Homo sapiens: one gene and its partners. The protein of the gene in region 4 interacts with the protein of the main gene of each other region in a biochemical or structural test. Each region holds a gene or a part of one and is shown on either strand. Other genes may lie near its edges.

What was found.
Region 1: the proteins of FMR1 (region 4) and NUFIP2 form a complex in vitro, tested with the Homo sapiens proteins (2 studies listed by BioGRID and IntAct, with this or other methods).
Region 2: the proteins of FMR1 (region 4) and CYFIP1 form a complex in vitro, tested with the Homo sapiens proteins (one study listed by BioGRID and IntAct).
Region 3: the proteins of FMR1 (region 4) and RANBP9 form a complex in vitro, tested with the Homo sapiens proteins (one study listed by BioGRID).
Region 5: the proteins of FMR1 (region 4) and ASCC3 form a complex in vitro, tested with the Homo sapiens proteins (one study listed by BioGRID).

What each region holds. Positions count from the first base shown.
Region 1 is NC_000017.11:29,284,148-29,287,667, reverse strand, and holds part of NUFIP2 (FMR1-interacting protein NUFIP2), read left to right. Parts: coding exon 1-1,676; intron 1,677-3,520. UniProt on the Homo sapiens protein: Binds RNA.
Region 2 is NC_000015.10:22,970,363-22,973,882, reverse strand, and holds part of CYFIP1 (cytoplasmic FMR1-interacting protein 1), read left to right. Parts: intron 1-3,520. UniProt on the Homo sapiens protein: Component of the CYFIP1-EIF4E-FMR1 complex which binds to the mRNA cap and mediates translational repression. In the CYFIP1-EIF4E-FMR1 complex this subunit is an adapter between EIF4E and FMR1.
Region 3 is NC_000006.12:13,701,835-13,705,354, reverse strand, and holds part of RANBP9 (ran-binding protein 9), read left to right. Parts: intron 1-3,520. UniProt on the Homo sapiens protein: May act as scaffolding protein, and as adapter protein to couple membrane receptors to intracellular signaling pathways. Acts as a mediator of cell spreading and actin cytoskeleton rearrangement.
Region 4 is NC_000023.11:147,939,399-147,942,918, reverse strand, and holds part of FMR1 (fragile X messenger ribonucleoprotein 1), read right to left. Parts: intron 2,344-3,520; coding exon 2,257-2,343; intron 1-2,256.
Region 5 is NC_000006.12:100,510,992-100,514,329, forward strand, and holds part of ASCC3 (activating signal cointegrator 1 complex subunit 3), read right to left. Parts: intron 1,928-3,338; coding exon 1,718-1,927; intron 1-1,717. UniProt on the Homo sapiens protein: ATPase involved both in DNA repair and rescue of stalled ribosomes. 3'-5' DNA helicase involved in repair of alkylated DNA: promotes DNA unwinding to generate single-stranded substrate needed for ALKBH3, enabling ALKBH3 to process alkylated N3-methylcytosine (3mC) within double-stranded regions.

The DNA of each region.
Region 1 (3,520 bases), on a different chromosome or scaffold from region 4:
GAACCTGAGTTCTGATGAAGCCACCAACCCTATTTCCAGGGTCCTCAATGGCAACCAGCAAGTTGTAGACACTAGCCTGAAGCAGACTGTAAAGGCCAACACCTTTGGGAAAGCAGGAATTAAAACCAAGAATTTCATTCAGAAAAACAGTATGGACAAAAAGAATGGGAAGTCTTATGAAAATAAATCTGGAGAGAATCAGTCTGTAGATAAGTCTGATACTATACCAATTCCAAATGGTGTGGTAACAAATAATTCTGGTTATATTACTAATGGTTATATGGGTAAAGGAGCAGATAATGATGGTAGTGGATCTGAGAGCGGATATACAACTCCTAAAAAAAGGAAAGCTAGGCGCAATAGTGCCAAGGGTTGTGAAAACCTTAATATAGTGCAGGACAAAATAATGCAACAAGAGACCAGTGTCCCAACCTTAAAACAGGGACTTGAAACTTTCAAGCCTGACTATAGTGAACAAAAGGGAAATCGAGTAGATGGTTCGAAGCCCATTTGGAAGTATGAAACTGGGCCTGGAGGAACAAGTCGAGGAAAACCTGCTGTGGGTGATATGCTTCGGAAAAGCTCAGATAGTAAACCTGGTGTGAGCAGCAAAAAGTTTGATGATCGGCCCAAAGGAAAGCATGCTTCAGCTGTTGCCTCCAAAGAGGACTCGTGGACCCTATTTAAACCACCCCCAGTTTTTCCAGTGGACAATAGCAGTGCTAAAATAGTTCCTAAAATAAGTTATGCAAGCAAAGTTAAGGAAAACCTCAACAAAACTATACAGAACTCTTCTGTGTCACCAACTTCATCTTCATCATCTTCATCATCTACCGGGGAAACTCAGACCCAATCATCAAGTCGCTTATCCCAGGTCCCTATGTCAGCGCTGAAATCTGTTACTTCTGCCAACTTTTCTAATGGGCCTGTTTTAGCAGGGACTGATGGAAATGTTTATCCTCCAGGGGGTCAGCCACTGCTAACTACTGCTGCTAATACTCTAACACCCATCTCTTCTGGGACAGATTCAGTTCTCCAGGACATGAGTCTAACTTCAGCAGCTGTTGAACAAATTAAGACTAGCCTTTTTATCTATCCTTCAAATATGCAAACTATGCTGTTGAGCACAGCACAAGTGGATCTGCCCTCTCAGACAGATCAGCAAAACCTGGGGGATATCTTCCAGAATCAGTGGGGTTTATCATTTATAAATGAGCCCAGTGCTGGCCCTGAGACTGTTACTGGGAAGTCATCAGAGCATAAAGTGATGGAGGTGACATTTCAAGGAGAATATCCTGCTACTTTGGTTTCACAGGGTGCTGAAATAATTCCCTCAGGAACTGAGCATCCTGTGTTTCCCAAGGCTTACGAGCTGGAGAAACGGACTAGTCCTCAAGTTCTGGGTAGCATTCTAAAATCTGGGACTACTAGTGAGAGTGGAGCCTTATCCTTGGAACCCAGTCATATAGGTGACCTGCAGAAAGCAGACACCAGTAGTCAAGGTGCTTTAGTGTTTCTCTCAAAGGACTACGAGATAGAAAGTCAAAATCCTCTGGCCTCTCCTACGAACACTTTGTTAGGCTCTGCCAAAGAACAGAGATACCAGAGAGGCCTAGAAAGGAATGATAGCTGGGGTTCTTTTGACCTGAGGGCTGCTATTGTATATCACACTAAAGGTAACTCATTTGTTTCCTATACAAAGATTTTTATTGGCCAATTTAGTATATTGTTTATATTAAGAGAATTTTAAGAGAATTAGTTGTTCATATTAAGAGTATTTTAAGAGAATGACAATGTGGATAAGCAGCTGGTGTCAAACTAATTCAGGGTCCTTGGAACTAGTATGATTAAAATTTAGAAGAAATGTTCACTTTTCCAACTTAAAAGGATTTTTAAAAATACAAACATAATTGACCTACCTGGTTCAAAGAACAGAAGTGAGGAGAACTTGCTTAAAGGTATTGATGTTATATTTTCTCTTGACTGAGTGCTTGAAAAAAAATTTTATTGAACATATGTTCTCCTTCCGTGGCTTTTTTGTCTTTGCTTTTTTGTTTTGTTTTGTGTTTTTTTTCTTTGAGATGGAGTCTCACTCTCTTGCCAGGCTGGAGTGCAGTGGCGTAATCCCGGCCCACTGCAACCTCCACCTCCCAGGTTCAAGTGATTCTCCTGCCTCAGCCTCCTGAGTAGCTGAGATTACAGGCACGCACCACCATGCCCGGCTAATTTTTGTATTTTTAGTAGAGACGGGGTTTCACCATGTTGGCCAGGATGGTCTTGACCTCTTGACCTTGTGATCCACCCACGGCCTCCCAAAGTGCTGGGATTACAGGTGTGAGCCACCACACCCATTTGCTTATTTGTTTTTGAGACAGAGTCTCACTCTCTCACCCAGGCTGGAGTGCAGTGGTGTGATCTTGGCTCACTGCAACCTCCGCCTCTTGGGTTCAGGTGATTCTCCTGCCTCAGCCTCCCGAGTAGCTGGGATTACAGCCATGCGCCACCACGCCCAGCTAATTTTTGTATTTTCAGTAGACACGGGTTTCCCCGTGTTGGCCAGGCTGATCTCAAACTTCTGACCTCGTGATCCGCCCGCCTCTGCTTCCCAAAGTGCTGTGATTACAGGTGTGAGCCACCGTGCCCAGCCTCTCCTTTGCTTTTTATATCATATGCGTCTTTAATAGTGAGCTCATTTAATAGTTCTAATTTGATTAAAATGAGTAGAAGCACTGTTTTTGAAGAGGAGACTGATAAGTCTTGGAGTAATGGATGCCAGTTTGTAACTGGAAAATAAGTTAGACAAATCACAGTGTCAAGTATGATTAGCATAGTTGAGACCAGGCTCTTGGGATTCTCCTTTTCATAGCCCTAAAGCCCAAGTTTAAAGGGAACCAGGTATCTTTCAAGTTTCACGCTAATAACTTTCTTTTCTTTTTTTTCTTTTTTTTTTTTTTTTTTTTTGAGATGGAGTCTTACTCTTGTCACCCAGGCTGGAGTGCAGTGGCGCAATCTTGACTCACTGCAACCTCCGCCTCCCGGGTTCAAGTGATTCTCCTGCCTCAGCCTCCCACGTAGCTGGGATTACAGGTGCCCACCACCACGCCTGGCTAATTTTTATATTTTTAGTAGAGATGAGGTTTCACCGTGTTGGCCAGGCTGGTCTCAAACTCCTGACCTCAGGTGATCCACCCACCTGGGTCTCCCAAAGTGCTGGGATTACAGGTGTGAGCCACCGTGCCAGGCCTCATGTTAATCACTTTCTTAGAATGTGGTTTGTTTGTGTCTTAAAGAAAAATTCGCTGTATGGCATAACTGTAATCTAAATCCTTAGAGCAAATAATGAGGTTTAACGATGATGTTTATATCCTTTTGCTTTTGAGAACAGTGGGTTTCAGTCTTCCCATCTTTCCTACCTCTTCCTCCTTTCTCTAACAGAAATGTATGCTCCATGCATGCATGTACACACTTAATACATAGTGCACATTCCCATTTTAACAGTGGCTCATTTAGGCAGTGACTT
Region 2 (3,520 bases), on a different chromosome or scaffold from region 4:
GAAATATCCATTCAGATCTTTTACAATTGAGTTGTTTGAATTCTTTGTATATTTTCATTATTAATCCCTTATTAGTTATATGGTTTGCAGATATTTTCCTGCATTCTGTAGATTGTCACTTTGTTGATTGATTCCTTTGCTGTGCAGAACATTTTTAGTTTGATGTAATCCCATTTGTCTATTTTTTCTTTTGTGGCCTTTGCTTTTGAGGCTTTATTTCCTCAAAATAAGCCAGGCACAGAAAGACAAGTACTGCACGATCTCACTCACATGTGGAATCTGAAAACGCTGATGCCACAGAAGAACAGAGCAGAATGGTGGTTACCAGAGGCTGGGGTGGCTGGCGGAAGGGGAGAGAGGAAGATGTTGGTCAAAGGATACACATTTACAGTTAGATACAAGGGGGAAAGTCCAGAATAGGCAAATATACAGAGACAGAGAGTAGACAGGTGATTGCCTGGGGCCAGAAAGCAGGGGAGAGAGGATCAGTGAAGAACGGGTAGAAAAAGTGAGAATAACTGCTAATGGTTAGGGAGTTTCTTCTCCCTTTTTTTTTTTTTTTTTTTTTTTTGACAAGGTCTCGTTCTGTCACCCAGGCTGGAATGCAGTGGGGCAATCATGGCTTACTGCAGCCTTGCCCTTTTGGGCTTAAGCAATTCTCCCACCTCAGCCTCTCCAGTACCTGGCACTACAGGTGTGCACCATCATGCCTGGCTAAATTTTGGTTGGTTGTTGTTTTGTTTTTTTGAGACGGAGTCTCACTCTGTCGCCCAGGTTGGAGAGCAGTGGCGCGATCTTGGCTCACTGCAACCTCTGTCTCCCAGGTTCAAACGATTCTCCTGTCTCAGCCTCCTGAGTAGCTGGGATTACAGGTGTGCACCACCATGCCCGGCTAATTTTTGTATTTTTAGTGGAGGCAGGGTTTCACCATGTTGGCCAGGCTAGTCTCAAACTCCTTACCTCAAGTGATCCTCCTGCCTCAGCCTCCCAAAGTGTTGGGATTACAGGTGTGAGCCACCGCCTAATTTTTGTGTTTTTTTGTAGAAATAAGGTTTCACCATGTTGCTCAGACTGGTCTCAAACTCCTGAGCTCAGGTGATCCCCCTGCCTGGGCTTCGCAGGGATTATAGGCTAAGCCACCGCACCTGGCCACATTTAAGTCTTTAATTCATTTCGGGTTGATTTTTGTCTATGTTGAGAAGCCAAGGTCTGATATTATTTTTCTGTATGTGTGTATCTAGTTTTCTCAACACCGTTTATTGAAGAACCTATCCTTTTCTCATTGTGTGTTCTTGGCACCTTTGTTAAAAATCAGTTGGCTGCAAATGCATGCATTTATTTCCAGGCTCTATTCTGTTCCATTGGTTTATGTGTCTGTGTTTATGACAATAGTGTGCTGTTTGGGTTACTATATCTCTGTAGTTTTTTTTGTTTTGTTTTGTTTTTGAGACGGAGTCTCACTCTGTCACCCAGGCTGGAGTGCAATGGCGCAATCTTGGATCACTGCAACCTCCGCCTCCCGGGTTCAAGCGATTCTCCTGCCTCAGCCTCCTGAGTAGCTGGGGATTACAGGCGTGCGCCACCACACCCAGCTAATTTTTTTGTTTTTAGCAGAGACGGTGTTTCACCATGTTGGCCAGGCTGGTCTCGAACTCCTGCCCTCAGGTGATCCGCCCACCTCAGCCTCCCAAAGTGCTGGGATTACAGGCGGGAGCCACCATGCCCAGCCTCTGTAGTATATTCTGAAGTCAGGTAGTGTGATGCCTCCAGCCTTGTTCTTTTGCTCAGGATAGCTTTTGCTATTCCAAGTCTTTTGTGGTTCCACACAAATTTTAGGATTTCTTTTTCTATTTGCATGAAGAATATGGTAGGTATTTTGATAGAGACTGCATTGAATCTGTAGATTGCATTGAATCTGTAGATTGCTTTGAATCTGTAGATTGCATTGAACCTGTAGATTGCATTGAATTTGTAGATTGCTTTGGGTACTATCTATTGTTTATTTATTTTTTGAGATGAGTTACCTAGGCTGTTACCCAGGCTGGAGTTCAGTGGTGCAGTCATGGCTCACTGCAGCTTTGATATCCTGGGCTCAAGCGATCCTCCCACTTCAGCCTCCTGAGTGTCTGGGACTACAGGTGTGAGCCACCACGTGCAGCTACTTTTTATTTTATTTCTTTTCTTTTTCTTTTTTCTTTTTTTTTTTGAGACAGAGTTTTGGTCTTGTTGCTCAGGCTAGAGTGCAATGGCGCAATCTTGGCTCACCGCAACCTCTGCCTCCCGTGTTCAAGCAGTTCTCCTGCCTCAGCCTCAAGCTACTCAAGCTGGGATTACAGGCGCCCACTACCACGCCTGGCTAATTTTGTATTTTTAGCAGAGATAGGGTTTCTGCATGGTGGTCAGGCTGGTCTGGAACTCCTGACCTCAAGCGATCTGCCTGCCTTGGCCTCCCAAAGTGCTGGGATTACAGGCATGAGCCATCACGCCCAGCCTTATTTTATTTTTTAGTAGAGACAAGGTCTAGCTGTGTTGCCCAGGCTAGTCTTGAACTCTTGAGCTCAAGTGATCCTCCCACCTCATCCTCACAAAGTGTTGGGATTACAGATGTGAGCAACAGCACCTGGTCTATTAATTCTGTTGTTGCCAGTGTTTTTGGTGTCATATCCAAGAAATCATTGCCAAATCTGATGTCATGAAGCATTTCTCCTGTTTTCTTCTAAGAGTTTTATAGTTTTAGATCCGATGTTTAGGCGTTGATCTGTTTTGAATTAACTTTTCTTTTTTGTGTGTGTGTTTGGTTTTTTTTCGAGACAGATCCTTGCTCTGTCGCCCAGGCTGGAGTGCGGTGGCGCAATCTCGGCTCACTGCAAGCTCCGCCTCCCGGGTTCAAGCGATTCTCCTGCCTCAGCCTCTCTAGGAGCTGGGATTACAGGCCCCCGCCACCACACCCAGCTAATTTTTTGTATTTTTAGTAGAGACGGGATTTCACCGTGTTAGCCAGGATGGTCTCGATCTCTTGACCTTGTGATCTGCCCGACTCGGCCTCCCAAAGTGCTGGGATTACAGGAGTGAGCCACCACGCCAGGCCAAATTAACTTTTCTGTATATTATATAAGGTAATGGTCCAACATAATTCATGTATGTGTGGATATTCAGTTTTCCTAACACAATTTGTTGAAAAGACTATTCTTTTTCCATTGAATGATCTTGACATCATTGTTGAAAATTGTTTGGCCACATATGTGAAGGTTTATGTCTGGGTTCTTTGTTCTGTTTAATTGGCCAGTATGCCTTTCTTTATGCCAGTGCCACACTGTTTCAATTACTGTAGCTTTATGGTAAGTTTTGAAATAAAAAGGAGTGAAGTCTCCAACTTTGTTCATCTTTTTCAAGATTGCTTTGGCTATTCTGGGTCCTTGGAGATTCCTATGAATTTTAAAATGGGTTATTTTTGCAAAAACAAAGTGCTGTTGGAATTTTCAAAGGGATTGCATTGAGTCTTTAGAAGGCTTTGGATTGT
Region 3 (3,520 bases), on a different chromosome or scaffold from region 4:
TCAGCTCACTGCAACCTCCATCTCCTGGATTCAAGTGACTTTCCAGCCTCAGCCTCCCAAGTAGCCGGGATTACAAGCGCCTGCCACCACGCCTGGCTAATTTTTGTATATTTAGTAGCGATGGGGTTTTGCCATGTTGGCCAGGCTGGTCTGGAACTCCTGACCTCAAGTGATCCGCCTGCCTTGGCTTCTCAAAGTGCTGGGATTATAGGCGTGAACCACTGCACCCAGCCTAATGATATATATTCTGCTAGACTAGACAATTTATATGTGTTTTTCACTGTTCATTTCTTCATTTATTTAATGAGCTTTTAGTGAATGTTTACTTTGTGCTAGGTTCTGGACACTCAGAGGTGGAGAAGATACTGTCATTGAATTCAGAGAGCTCAGAGGACATAAAATAGAGTAGTAAGGGAAATATTATAGAGAGTACTGTGGAAAATAGGAGGAGCGTATAACCCAGGCTGACATTGGAAAGAATGAAGGAAGTGTAGGTATCAGGGATAGCTTCTTGGAGGAGTCGAGGCTAGTGGTCAGTCTTAAAAGATGAGTAGGATATAGGAGAAAGGGAGGGGCTAGGTGTTGCAAATGAAGGAAAAGCAAAAACATAGAGAATTACTTTATGTGTCTGGTTTTACAAGCAATTTTGGGTTGGCATTTAGAGTATGTGACAAGGAGCATCTGGGAAAAGATCAATTAGGAGGCTTTTTTTTTTTTCTCTTTTGAGGCAGGGTCTGACTCCATTGTCCAGGCTAGAATGCAGTGGTGCGATCTAGGCTCACTGCAACCTCTGCCTCCTGGGCTCAAGTGATCCTCCCACCTCAGCATCCTGAATAGCTGCAACTACAGGCACGTGCCACCATTCCCAGCTAATTTTTTGTATTTTTTTGTAGAGAAGGGGGTTTTGCCATGTTGCCCAGGCTGGTCTCGAATTCCTGAGCTCAAGCCATCTGCCTGCCTTAGCCTCCCAAAGTGCTAGGATTACAGGCAGGAGCCACTGTACCTGGCCCAGTTAGGAGCCCTATGGAATATTTTGTTGAGTTTAGATCTTATTCTGTAGGAGATGGAGAATCATCAAAGGATTTTAAATGGGAAGTGACTGGCTCATATCTTCATTTTTGTCAGATTACGCAGCTGATTGGAAGATAGATTCAAGAGGTTACAAGAGTGGGAATAGTAAATTCATTTAGAAGACTATTGCAGTAGACCATGTTAGAATTGACCTCAGCTGGGTCAGTGGTAAGGCCAGAGAAAGGCAGATATATTTGTGAGATATTTAAAAGTAATACTGAGAGGATATGAGGAATGATAGTGAGAGAAATCAAAGAAAATGTTTGGGTTTCCAACTCTGTTAGGATGATGTTTGGGTCTTTAGCTGTTAGGCTCTTGCAGTGAACCATGAATAAAATAATGATTGTGAAGGAGACTGTATTACAGTATAGTTGGAGATAAGTAAAAATGGGAATCTCAGCCCTGTGATCTGACTTCATGGAAACCAGAAGAAGCCAAAGAAACAAGCCTTACAGAAAGAACAGGAACAGGTCTTTTGGAGTTAAGGGGACTCTAACTGGTCTTAATAGTCATGACTTAATTCTATTCTATTAAAATGACTCAGCTCCAATCACTAGTTTCTGGTTGTTTTATTTCTTTTTCCCTACTGACTGGCTTATCCTTTCCTTCCTATGTCAAATTCCTGAGAGACTTAACAGATTGGCCTGGCTAATTGCTATGATTCTTAGTTGGGCAGAGCTTTTCAATACAGACTATGTTGTGAATTGGTGGCCTTCAAGTCAGGTGCTAACCTGTGTTGAATCAGCTGTAGGAATGGTGGTAATTATAAAATACAAAATACCCTGCTGGTACAAGGATAGTCTGGGTCTCACTTCTTTCGGTAGGGGCAATGTGTGAGGCAGTTTCTCCTAGGAAGGGTTGGCAGTTAACCATAATTGATCTGAAGCTTGGGAGAGAGGTCTAGGTCGTGACTGATTTAGGAGTCACTTGTAGGTGGTAGTTGAAACTCAGAGTATTTGAAAGAGAGAGGGAGAATAGAGTGAGAAAAAGCAGTGGGCCAAAGATGGGGACCCTGAAGAACACCAACATTGAAAGACTAGAGGGAGCACAAAAGAAATGGTAGGTCCCCAGACATCAAGGAGATTGGTGTCACAGAAGCTGAGCACGGGAGGGTGCAGTGGCTCACACCTGTAATCCCAAAACTTGGGGAAGTCGAGGTGGGAGGACTGCTTGAACCCAGGAAGTTGAGGCTGTAGCCAGCGGTGATCATGCCACTGCATTTTAGCCTGGGCAACAGAATGAGACACTGTCTCAAACAGCCTCCCCACCTTCCCTAGAAATGAGGAAGTGATATTTAGTGTCTGTTGCAACAGATAGGTTTAGTAGGATAGGCACAGATAGTTTTCCACTACGTTTGGAAATTAGATCATTGTGACTTTAGGGAGAGCAGTTTGAATTGAGTGATGGGGCAAAAACCAGATTTCAGTGGGTTGAAAGAGTAAATGAAAGGACCAAGTAGAGAGGATAGTGAATAGAGATTATCCTTGAGAAATATAGATGAAGGAAGAGATGAGGCATTTCCTAGAGGAGGATGGAGGTTAAGGTAGGATTTTTTTTTTCTTCTAATTTTTAACGGCTGATAGTGGAGTTACGTTTTACCTGGTGTTTAGCTTCTAATGTCAGCATAGAAGATGAAAATCCTACATAACCAAAATTATCCTTAAAAATTCCTTTGGAAAGTATTGTGTTAGAGACCACTGTGTCATTTCTTAGTCAATCTTGTTTTAATTTGGTTGTATAGGTAAAACTGAAGCGACATAAATTAAATGAAAATACTATATTATATTAGTCCAAGGTATGGTGTTCCAGGAAATGTATACAAAATTTAACATTTTAACAAATAAAATTGATTAGCCTACCTGGTTATTATTACTATTTTTTCTTGAACAGAGTCTCGCTTTGTCAGGCCGGATCCCAGGTTTAAGCAATTCTCCTCCCTCAGCCTCCCGAATAGCTGAGATTACACACACCCGCCACCATGCCTGGCTAAGTTTTATGTTTTTAGTAGAGATGGGATTTCACCATGTTGGCCAGGCTGGTCTCGAACTCCTGACCTCAAGTGATCCACCCACCTTGGCCTCCCAAAGTGCTGGGATTACAGGCATGAGCCACTGCGCCCAGCCTTGTTATTACTTTTAAGGTAAAAAATTATATACCACCAACTCTGGTACATTACTGACAATGATTTATATGTAGCACGGAGGCATAGAATTTGTGAAAAGTGTACATTTTGGGGACATTGTCCCTTTACAGATTGAGGGGAAGGAGAGATTAGAGAGGAAGATAATGAAATACAAGCTTGAGAGGCTGACAGAGAGGCTTCTAGAGAGGAAACTGGTTCCAGAGTCCAGAATGGTTGGTCTTGGAGAGGAGAGTACAGACTGTTCTTTGATAATAGTGGAAGAGGTGAAGACTGCCGTGGACATAGATCACTTTGTAATAAAAGAGT
Region 4 (3,520 bases):
AGATATAACAAAAACACTCAGCAGTAAAATTATACTGAATAAAATTTAAAGTTGTCTAATTTGGCACTATTATCCAATTATTCTACTGCTAAGGCACAGATATGCTATTTTGGGGACTTCTTCATGATAGGATATTAAATAAAACATGCTAAAATGTATGAATATAGATAAATGACATTCAAGGTATAACCAGCTAACCTTAAAAATCACACATTGTAAATAATCTTGATTAAAATAGATTTGCCAGTTAATATCTTAATTTACAAAGCATTGAGTTTGGGCCATCTTTTGTTTTAAAAGAACATATACTATGGTTAAGGAACAATGATTTTTTCATCAACTGAAAATGCTGACTATTCCTCATGAGGGGAAAACAAAACTATTTAATAGCTGACCAGACAGCTAGGTCTTACATCATGCCTTGAAAACTTCCTAAAGACTACAACTCTGCTACAACAAGTACGAGAAACAGTATACATTTAGTTGATAGAAATATACACCTGGGGTCCAATGACAGACCCTTACAAAAAGCACTTCCAGTATGTTGGGTTCTGTTAAAACCAGATGAAACCTCATTTCTAACCACTGTCCTTCCAATCCACTCATAAACATCTCATTTACTGGCTACGGGGAATCAGATTCATAACTATAGTAGTAGTAGGCGTCTCAGTGAAGCAGAGGTTATCATAGAGACTGTCTACATGAACAGTCATTGGAGAAGCTCCTGTAAAGCTAAGTTTCTAAAATCTTGGTTGTGGCAGCTTCTGGAAAAGAAAGGTCAGGTAAGGATTTGGTCCGTTTCATCTGTGCTCTGCCATCATTAGCAATTTACATAGTTACACCAGAATCTGTTTTACATAGAATTTGAGCAAAGGAGAGACTGCAGCTGAGTGAGTGACTTCCTCCAAAGGTATAGTAATAGCTCATGGAATAGGAATATCTTGCAAAACAGAAGAGTAGTCCAGGTTATCCCACTGGGGCAAAGCAGTCACCTTTTGGTGAGAGATGCCAGGCCCAAACGAGGGAAGTTCTGGTGATGGAAAGAATGGCAACAGGGCAGCTGCTGATAACCAAAGAAGATATTCTTGAGAATAAATCAAAGGATCTAAGAAAGAACATTAGTCAAAAGAACAAGGGATTTGATACAATGCAATCCTAACTCTCCAGGCCTTCATGATGATTTAAGCTAATTACGAGAGAGACACACACACAGAGAGATTACACATAAACATACTTAAAAAAAAATCAAAGAGGTATCCTACCCATGTAAACCTTGCTGGATGAAACCTTTCCACTTTTAATTAACTGGCCACCATAAGAATGAATGGCATGCCCAGTATTACACTTTTTCTTCCTTTCATTCTTATTTACACACAAGCAGAAATCATGTACTTTTTATTTCTTTCAAGAAATCAGCAAAAAAATTCTTAATGCCATAAATAGAGTTGAAATGCTTTTTAAAAACATTTAATACCAGCTACATTATAATTTTGATATGTATGGATACAAATAAAACATTATGAAAATGAAGTAGATCAGTTTCCATTTCATTAAAGTATAGAACATTTTGGCCAAAAGGAATTTCAAGAAGCATCTAGTGTAGGGAAGTGACTTGCCTAAAGTCACACAGCTAGTTCATTTGCTGAAGTCTTATAAGTAAATTGCTGCATTGCCCATCCAGTGCTTGCTCCACTACACCTTGTAGCCTCCTCGTTCCTATCTTCCAGTTTGAAATTTTAAGGAGGCATAACCGCATCACACTAACTAAACTGAACATTTATGAGAAGACACAAATAGTTTGTATTTTGAATAACAGTAAAGAGAAAAATAGGGTAAACATTTAAACAAAGAACTTCATGAAATGCTTAGATTTCCTTGATAAATGACATAAAAGGAACAATAAAGGCAAGAGTTATAGACACAGATTTTTGTCTGGAAAAAACCAAAATGCTAGAAAGGATCAAATGGATTAACAGGCTATGTACAGGATTGCCTAAACTGAGTGTAAGGGTTTAAGAGAAGAATAAAGGGAAGTATAAAATTTTATTGAAAACTGGTATATTGGTACTTAAATTTATAAAGACTTCCATTTTTAAAAAAATTATAAGCCAAACAACGTATTTTCTCTATTACCTTTGACAAGTCATACAGTGTTTTGCACAGGCTAGAATGAGTCCTAACTGCTGAAAGATCTACTATAAAGTTTGTATATTTTAGTACAAAAGGATTAGAAGTTAAAGTTCTTTCTGTTCTCACCTTTAAATAGTTCAGGTGATAATCCAAAAGAACAGTGGCATTAGCGATGCTGTCCTTTGTTCCCACAAAAACAAATGGTACCATACCCTGAAAAAGAAATTGCAACAATGATCCTATAAAAGTAATGATAGATTAATCTGAAAAATGCAAATAACGACTAATTCCCTAGCACAGGATCTGGTGAACAGCAGGTATACAAATGTTTGCTGTAAATATAAATCAATATATGAAAACAAAAGTAGTTGATATACTACTTTACACATCTACTGTGAATACGAATAGATCAATAGCAACCTTTTAAACGTATCAGATTATTATAAAGACTAGTATTCAGTATCAGCAAAATCACAAAATGTATAATTCAAAATTATACAAGCTTTACCATGAGATGTATAAACAAAATGAGTAGTATAAGATGCTCTAATTCATTTATGAAAGGCTTTATCCTGATCAAAATTTTTTCTTTTTTTTTTTTCTTTTTTGTTTTTTTTTTTTTTTTTTTGAGACGGAGTCTCGCTCTGTCGCCCAGGCTGGAGTGCAGTGGCGGGATCTCGGCTCACTGCAAGCTCCACCTCCCGGGTTCACGCCATTCTCCTGCCTCAGCCTCCCAAGTAGCTGGGACTACAGGCACCCGCCACTACGCCCGGCTAATGTTTTGTTTTTTTAGTAGAGACAGGGTTTCACTGTTTTAGCTGGGATGGTCTCGATCTCCTGACCTCGTGATCCGCCCGCCTCCGCCTCTTTTTTTTTTTTTTTTTTTGAGACAGGGTCTTTTTATTCTGTTATCCAGGCTGGAGTGCAGTGGCATGATAATGGCTCGCTGTAGCCTCGACCTCCCCAGGCCCTAGGTGTTCCTCCCACCTCAGCCTCCTGGATAGCTGGGACAACACGTGCATGCCATCATACCCAGCTAAATTTTTGTACTTTCTGTAGAGACGGGGTTTCGCCACATTGCCCAGGCTGGTCTCGAATTCCTGGGCTCAGGCGATCTGCCTGCCTTGGCCTCCCAAAGTGTCGGGACTACAGGCATGAGCCATCGCGCCTGGCCGATCAAATTCTTAAAAAAAAAATCAAAATGAAATACCAAGGGTACAAAAGTAAAAAGTAAATCATTTCTGCTAACCAAGTAAATAGAGTACACACAAAATACAAACAAAAACATCAGGATAAAAATGCACTGAATAATCTGTGAGACAAAAAAATAGGTACATTGACAAGCATTAAGTTTTATCAAGCCCATACACATTTCAATAATGTACTCTGA
Region 5 (3,338 bases), on a different chromosome or scaffold from region 4:
TTAAATCTAAGCTTTAAGTAGAATATTAAGGTAAAAAAATCATAGTTTTCCCCCATGATTTTATCTTTATGATTGTTGCTATTTTTATTATTACTATTATTAGTTTGTAATTATTACTTTTTTTTATAAGTTGGAATACATTAAGTCATCTAAAAAATGCTCATATTGCCAGGTGCAGTGGGTCACGCCTGTAATCCCAACACTTTGGGAGGCCAAGGCAGGTGGATCACCTGAGGTCAGGAGTTTGAGACCAGCCTGGCCAACATAATACAAAAAATTAGCTGGGTATGGTGGCAGGCACCTGTAATCCCAGTTACTCGGGATGCTGAGGAAGGAGAATTGCTTAAACCCGGGAGGCGGAGGTTGCAGGGAGCTGATGTTGCACCCTTGTACTCCAGCCTGGATAACATAAGTGAAATTCCATCTCAAACAAACAAACAAATGAAACCTCATATTAAGGTCAGGTGTGGTGGCTCATGCTGGTAATCCCAGAACTTTGGGAGGCAGAGGCAGGTGGATCATTTGAGGTCAGGAGTTCAAGATGAGCTGGTCAACATGGTGAAACCCTATCTCTACTAAAAATACAAAAAATTAGTTGAGTGTAGTGGCACATGCCTGTAAAACCCAGCTATTTGGGAGGCTGAAGCAGGAGAAATGCTTGAACCCAGGAGGTGGAGGTTGCAGTGAGCCAAGTCTGGGCGACACAGTGAGACTTCGTATCAAAAAAAAAAGCTCATACTAAAGCCTCTGAAATGCCAGAGGCCAATCAGTTAATACTTACACTGACAGACTTTTTTAGAATTAGAAATCAAATGAGGTGAGACTTGAAGGTACAATACTGAAAGAACATCTTAAGAATAGAAAGTTACTGATCATTTTGTGTGTGAGAACAGAAGGGACAATACTTATGAACTACAGCTTCACCCCTGAGGGCTTATTCTAGATATGGGAAAGCCCTGAATCCACTGGACCAAAAAGAAGACTAATTCTTTCTTATTTTAATTATTATGGCACTAAAAACCAATCTGCCCACCTGCTGTGTACTAATATTCTTAGAGGACCAGATAATCAGAGGCAACAGAAAAGAGCATAGTAATCTAAAATAAAAATACTGTACATTTTTGCCTGTATGAACATTGACAAAGCTCTCCTATGCATTATAATGAAGGACGCAGGCAAATGTGGCAACTGAGGCTCAGAAAAGCTTAATGTCTTATTCAAATTCATAGAGCTAAGTGGTAAAGCTTCAGTCTCATCTACATCTAGCCCAATGTGGTTCCTGTATACCAAAGTGCCTCTAGGCCAGTACTGCTCAAGCTTTAAGGCCCTTAAAAATCATGTGGGGCACTGAGTGAAGGTATAGATTTTGAGATTCCCGCCTCCTTGAGGTTCTGATTCAGCCAGTCTGGAGTGGGGCCAAGGAATCTGCACTTTAAAAGGCACTCCAGGAAATTCTGCTGGCCAGAGTCTGTATACCATACTTTGAGAATAGTACTCTAGGCAATATATTCTTATGTAAGGTAGATTTTCTGGGGCTGAAAAATGACACATGAGGAGAACTCACGAATTTCAAAAGACTAACTCTCGCTGCTTAAGACCAGTTGAGAAAGCAGGATTCATGAATGACACGGGCACATTAGTCACATAACAGATATGTGTGGTGGTGCATGCTGGTATTTGGTGTGAAATATTTGAGAATGGAAACCAAACACTATACCTTGTGGAACCCAAAGTGGACTCTCTGCAAGCTCACTTGAAGCACATACTCTTGGTCAGCATGCAATTTGATCCATTTGTTGTCATCTCGTTTGTCTGCAGTCAGAGTTGAGACAGAGAGTTCATTATGTCCTTCAACTAAGTCATCCCACGAGCCTTTAACACTTATGCCAACATTTATCACTGGCAAGTGAGATAAGAAATTCCATGCCTAAATAAAAAGAGAAAAGAAACAATAAAGGAGGAGTTTATGTGAAATGCAATGATCAATTAAGAAATAGTGTGCTTTTAGACGAAAATTAACCTTTTAATGTTGAGATTAATTCTAGATCCAATGCAGTTGCAGGAAATAATACAGAGACATTCTGTGGACCATTTACCCAGTTTCCTCCAAAGGTAGCATTTTTCAAAACTACGGTACTTATTACTACTAGGATATTGACATTAACATAATCCAGTGATTTTGTTCAGATTTCCCCAATTTTTCTTGTATTTGTGTCTATATGCATGTATGTGTAAGAATATTGTGCTTTTAGTCTTTTTAATGTCTTTGTAAAAATAACTAAAAGAGGGCTTATCATTATTTAAACTTGTGATTCCTTTATTGTAAATCCTTCCTGATACTGAGCAGCTGTTGACTATATTAAAATAAAACAAGTTAAAAAATGTCTGTTATCGAACTGGTTTGTTTTAGAGAAGCATCTATTCAGACATTCACATGGCTTCTAAGAAGGAGAGCATTACTTGGGGATAAAAGGGCAATGTGAAAATATTTTTGTAATTCAATTATTGATGTTAGAATCCTCCACTGACCACTTATTGTACATTTTTTGGCCCATATTTCAAATTTGCCCTATTTATTCAGAAAAAAATTCTTTATATTTTATATCATAAGGAATTCTATAAGTCTAGGGTTCCTTCTAGAAACAAATATGAATTTTTGGCATCATCATACTGAGAATACCAATTAAAATGACACATTAAAAGATATTTTACCTAACTTTATACTTGCTCTTGAAGTGGAAAGACATTTGTAAAAAATCAGTATTCAAATAGCAAGTGCTCAACAATAATGAATGAATGAATGAGAATACCTAGGTCTACAGAAAAGATGTAACAAAAAACTTGAGGTCATCTTTTTCTAACATATACACTTATATGGCAATATCACCATCAGTCAAGAAAACTTCTCAATACATTGGCTTTTTTTTTTTTAATCAGTTGTTACCTTCTCAGTTAGTTTTTAAAAGTACATGGTACTTTAATTTTGGTTTTTCTTTTATTCCTTTAATATATACTATAGATTTCCTTATAGGCTTTGATTTTGCTTAGTGCTGCTGAGTATACCTAATTGAAATGAAGTAGTCCTGATGAACCAAACTACCCCTTAGGAATTAAAAAAAATGTAAATTCAATGCAAATTTTCAATTCAACTCCAATCCTATAACTTGTCTTATCAATCTGAAATCATGTCTTGAACTGGATTTTGAAGTAGTCAAGCCACAGATGGTACTTCAATCTGTACAACCTGTACAAAGGATGGTCTATCCCCTGCTAGAACCCATAGTCACTAAGTATAGAAGCTGTACCACTAGATGTTCTTCTAGGACTGGCCAGTCTGG